2 separate regions of the Homo sapiens genome follow, and region 1 is linked to region 2. Evidence: fine-mapped expression QTL. A gene starts in region 2. The other region holds a variant in brackets. All regions are shown on one strand. Distances are between the middles of the regions.

Region 1 (2,910 bases), 150 kb before region 2:
TGGATTAAGACATCAAACGGGCAGAGCCCTCAAGACCCAATCACTGCTTAAAGGCCCTACCTCTCAATATTGCTACATTGGGGATTAAGTTTCAACATGAGTTTCAGAAGGGACAAATATTCAAACCACAACATCCCTGAATGGCAATTAATTGTAAAGAGAAATTAATTGTTATCTTAGATGACATGATCGTGATTTCAATTTGAAACCTTTTGAAGGTCTAGGGGATAAAGGGACTATGAATGCAGCCCTGGCTTTGGCTCCCTCAGGGTGGCCTCTGTGTGCAACACCCAGGTTAGATTATCTGCTAAGATTTCCTCTGGGCTGGCCAATCTGAAAGCAATATGGAATTGTGTAATCCAAGGGCTCCTGAACACAAGGGAAAAGGTGTTTCATCCAGTCTCACAGCAGGAGACATCAGCTTTTGAGTTTTTACACTTTTCTGGCCAAGTGCCTGGTCCTAATCAGATCATAGGAAGCATAGTGGTGATATTAATTCTAGAAGCAAATTGTAACAGAAGATGGAATTACTGGTATTAACATAAAACCCTAACATCTTAGACGAAACTCAATCTGTGATAGGGTGGTTTAAGTGATAAAAAGAAAAGGTACTCCTTAACCTGTGGAGGGAAAGCTCTTTTGAGGAACCCTGGTTAATAGTTTATTATTGCCCCAAACCACATTGCTAGTCCTGGAGCAGAGACTGCAATCTTGTTCTCCAGGCAGAGAAAAGCTTGAGGAGAGGTGTGTCCTCAAAGACAACTTGGGATGTTAGTGAGAAGCAGGGCAGTGGTAGTCACTCAATTCTTTCATTTCCTTCTTGTCTTTTATTTTCTATTTATTTTTATTGTGGTAAAATACATATAACAAAATTTACCATCTACCATGAATTCTGAGTCTATCTAGAAGTAAAGTTCCTTAGCATATTCTTGATTACACAAAGATAGTTTTTATAATTTGGAAATCTTTGAGGTACTTTGGAGAAGAAGAACTAAATAAGGAATGATCTCCATCATAGACTTCTTGCTCCTAGTACTTTGGAGAGGAAGAACTAAACAAGGAATGATCTCCAACATAGAAACTTCTTGCTCCTGTTGCCTCTATCTAGAAGGCAGAGTCCCAAGCAAGTTTACAATAACATCATGAGGGTCCCCACTGGGGTGTGAGGAGCTCCTTCCAGGGCATTGGTTGAAGGCAGTGGTGCTGTTGATGCAAGGATACCCCCAGAATTGGCATTCAGCCAG[G/A]GAAGCCAAGTGGATACTTTGCTTGTACCAGAAAGAATTCAAGAGCAAGCCAAAAGAGTAATGTGAAAGCAAGTGTATTAAGGAAACAAAAAGAAGGCTACCCCCGTAGTCAGGGTAGCACCAAGGGACAGGGCAGCTAGCTGGCTATTTTATGGCTATTTCTTGATTATATGCTAAATGAGGGGTCGACTATTTCTTTAGTTATCTGGGAAAGAGGCAGGAGCTTGTGGACCGGGGGTTTATCTACCTTACAGAAGATACAGAGTAACTCTTGGGGATTGCCATGGCACTTATAAACAGTCATTGCTCTGGTGGTAGTCTTTTAGCATGCCAATGCATAATAATTAGCATATAACGAGCAATGAAGGTAACCAGAGGTAGCTTTTATGCCATTTTCCTTCTAGCTGGTTTGGGCTTTTTTAAAACAATTTTTAAATTTTTTTTAAGGAATCTTGTACCGGGTACTGTGACCTGTGTCTTGGGGACCTAGCATCCTGTTTGTCTTGAGAAACTAGTCCTGCCAAACTCCTATCTCACTGTGAGTAATGAGCAAGAAAAGTTTTTTTTCCCTTTCAGGGTTCTTCAGTATTTCAAGCCTTGATTGTGAGCAGTTTAAGGAGACGTCCTGGGTATGTGTCTGTTCAGCTCTGCAAGCGCTGGCATCTCCTGGCTGGTTTGGGACCCACTGAACCCTGCTATTGGCAGAATCCATCTTTTTTTTTTTTTCCGAGAGGGAGTTTCGCTCTTGTTGCCAGGTTGGAGGCCAATGGCGCGATCTCGGCTCACTGCAACCTCCGCCTCCCAGGTTCAAGTGAGTCTCCTGCCTTAGCCTCTCAAGTAGCTTGGATTACAGGCATGCACCACCATGCCTGGCTAATTTTGTATTTTTAGTAGAGACGGGGCTCACCATGTTGACCTGGCTGGTCTCGAACTCCTGACCTCAGGTGACCCATTTGCCTCAGCCTTCCAAAGTGCTGGGATTACAGGCGCGAGCCACCATGCCTGGCCTAATCCATCTTGTCTTAAAGCGACTGGAGCTACTTTGTGGTTTCAGCCACTGACTTCTGGACATGTGGGTTTTGATGGCGATTGGGTCCCTCTTGAGTCTGAGAACAGCTCTGAGCCTGCTGGAAACCCAAAACAGCAGCCCACACACACCTGATTTTACATCCTCACAGAGCAAAGGGCATTGGCAGGAGTGGTGTTCAGCACAGCAAGTGATCTAGTGCCCAGGCACAGGTTTGTTCTTGGTCCTGTCCTGGTGGCATGTGACAAGCACTCTGGACCTGCCTACCTCCAAGACTGTTCTTCCAGGGTTGGTGGACAGAACTCCATGGGTTCAGCCTTGTGATGAGGCCAGCCATGTAGCTGAACTAGGAAAAGAGGTAAATGACTCAGGCTAGTACTGAGTGTGTGTGTGTGTGTGTGTCTGTGGGTGGGTGTTTGAGATGGAGTCCTGCTCTGTCACTCAGGCTGGAGTGCGGTCGCATGATCTTGGCTCACTGCAACCTCTGCCTCTCGGGTTCAAGCGATTCTTCTGCCTCAGCCTCCCGAGTAGCTGAGACTCCAGGTGCGTGCCACCACCCCCGGCTAATTTTTGTATTTTTAGTAGAGATAGGGTTTCACCATGTTGGTCAGGCTGGTCTTGAACTCCTGACCTCGTCAT
Region 2 (2,910 bases):
TCAAGATATCTCATTTTCTTCTTTTGAAATATTTTGCATTAGCAATTATTAATGGTTTTTAAATCTCAGATTTTTGGCTGTATATTTTGTTTCTTGAATTATTATCTCGAATTATTATCTTATGTATGACATATGCAAGCACAACTACATATAAAATCCCTTAAATAGTTAAAACTTGATCCTTACAGCAGAAAAATATTTGTTAATAGCCTCCCATGATACAGTAAAATTCCTTTTGGAGTAAAATTAAAAATAATTGCTGTTTGATAGTACTGTTATTCTTTAATAGTGCTACATAGTAATCTGAAGTAGTTAATGGAAACTCCCTCCACCCCCACCTTTTTTTTTTGGTACCTAACCTTTTAAATAAAAAAGGTTTTACTAGGGTTTTGTCTCAGAATCTGGCTCTTGAAATAAATGCATTTAAATTTGAGCTTGATTTTCTCTCAACTCCTTCCCCCAAAGAAGACCCTGTTATTTCCTTGTAAAACCATCACTAATATTCCATTTGCTATCGTTGCATGATATCCCTTTTGCCATAATGGCAGAGCCAGGCAATTCATTTCTAGGTATCTTCATTGCCTGCTCTTCTGATTTCTTAGGTCAAGATCCTTTCAGTGAATATGGTCTTGCCCTGTGAAATTCGGTGTCAAGCTGGTGATTCAGTGCTTGTCAAATTCCTTAGTGAGCCGCAGAGACTGATTTGTGACCTTCAAGGCTCAGCTTCAACCGTCCCCACAGGCAAGTGAAAGTCCCATTTCCTTCTTTGTCTTCTTGCCTGCTGGCTTCAACCATCCCCACAGGAGCGTGACAGTTCCGTTTCCTTTTGGGTCCTCCTGTCTGCTGGCTTGAGTCCCGGGGCTCGTCCTCTCCCCTACCCCACACAGTTGGTCCTTCGCCGCTCGCCTGCCCCACGCTCTGGTCCCTCCTCTTTCCTCCTCACCTCCCCTCAAGAATTCACTCTCAGTCCTGAAGCCTGGGTCCCCTGGCTCCCTCTCCGTCATCCTAGTGTCCTTAGGGACCTAGCAGAAATAAAGGATGGGGGCCGAGGACCCGCGGATGTGAGAGAAGTGCCTGAGACAAAAACCTGTATGGACCCAGAGCACTGTAAGGAGATAAGAAGAAAAGCATCTCTATGGAAAAAGCGGGAGTTTCGAATCGCTTTCTAGCGTCCTTAGCGGCCTAGCAAAAATAAAGGATGGGGGCCGAGGACCCGCGGATGTGAGAGAGGTGTCTGAAAAGAAAAGCCTGTAATGGACCCAGAGCACTGTAATGAAATATGAAGAAAGGAATCTCTATGGAGAAAGCGGGAATTTCGAACCGTCAATAGAATTTGGAGTGTACCTGCTGTTGCTCCTAGTTCCCCACAGTCTCCCTTTCCGCTGCCTCTGGGGCCTGGTACACCCCTGAATGCTGTCCCCTCCTCCGGAAGCCGAATCCCCCAACAATGGGCCCGCCTTTCTCTGGGCCCGCCCTGTGCGCTATGCTGGAGCTCCTACCACCAGCAGTTCTTACCAACTTGGCCCAGCTCCGCTCAGCATCTGCGGCTGCTTAGGTATTTTCATGTGGTTTCCAGAACATGAATCAACACCGGATCAATAATTGTTTCCCCAACCAAAGAATAAATCACATTGGGTGTTCTGAATTGTGAGTCAGCTCCATTGAATAAATAATTATCCATATCTATTTTTGTAACTTATAAAATTGCCTTTTAAAATTCCAGAGCCAGTTAATAGATATGGTTTCCCATCTACAGAGTTATATCTTGGTAGCTTAATGATTAAGGGCGTGGGCTCTTGCGTGGATTCAAACCCCAACTCTTCTCTTTTTCCGTGGGTGATAGTGGGTAAGTTCTTAATTTCATGCACCTAAGCATCTTCATCTGTATAAGAGATTAATTATAATGCCTGCCTCTGCCGGGCGCTGTGGCTCACGCCTGTAATCCCAGCACTTTGGGAGGCCGAGGGGGGTGGATCACCTGAGGTCAGGAGTTGGAGACCAGCCTGGCCAACATGGTGAAACCCCGTCTCTACTAAAAATACAAAAATTAGCCAGGCGTGGTGGCGGGCTCCTGTAATCTTACCTACTTGGGAGGCTGAGGCAGGAGAATTGCTGGAACCCGGGAGGCGGAGGTTGCAGTGAGCGGAGATCGCACCATTGCATTCCAGCCGAGACCCGCAGCAGCAAGACTCAGTCAAAAAAAAAAAAAAGAAGCCTGCCTCTTAGGACGGTTGTGATGATTAAATGAAGTGATGCATTTATAAGGTGCTTAATGGAGATCCTTGCTTAAAGTAAGTGTTCAGAAATGTTAATTATTAGAATTTTTGAATGTTGTTCAGTAATAGTTTGAAAGCGAATCCACTGCCAACTTTGCTCATCTGCTTTTTTTTTTTTTTCTGAGTGGGAGATGGGAGGTTTATTTTTGTTAATGTGATTTTTCGATAGACTCCAAAATTTGGCAAGTGAAAAAATATAAACAGTAATATGATAACCCATACTTTACTAGTTGAAAGGTAGTGTGGCATAATGGCAAGAAAATTAGGTTAAAGTGGAAAATGGGGGTTGTAGTCTTCACTCTGCTGCTCAAATAAGCTTTCCCTAACATTAGTAGCAACACATAGAAATATTGAAAATGACCTGCTGAATTGCGGGTTCTACCCAATTAGCAAATATAAAATGTTCCATGTAACTCATGTCATAATAACTTTTGAAACAAGCCCATTTTAAGACCCTAAATGCTAAAATGCTACCTTCTCCATGAGTCATTCACTGATCGTATCAATCAGTTGTGATCTACCTTTCCTTACTCTATGGAACATGCTAGCTTTCTGTGGCATTTGTTAAGACTGAATTGATGTATTACCTCTTTTGCTGTATTTATTATTGGCTCCTTGGGGGAAGAAACTCTAT

The links.
Region 1: its variant is fine-mapped to the expression of CCDC152 in whole blood (INTERVAL, PIP above 0.99).

What each region holds. Positions count from the first base shown.
Region 1 is chr5:42,903,444-42,906,353 of GRCh38, reverse strand. No RefSeq gene overlaps it. Among named protein-coding and RNA genes, the nearest start is that of FLJ32255, 88 kb to the left of the region's middle. The variant G/A (reference allele first, on the strand shown) is at 1,245.
Region 2 is chr5:42,755,320-42,758,229 of GRCh38, reverse strand. CCDC152 (coiled-coil domain containing 152) reads right to left here and starts at 1,412. Exons shown (of 9, transcript NM_001134848.2): 1 at 1,345-1,412. RefSeq lists enhancers at 356-855, 856-1,357.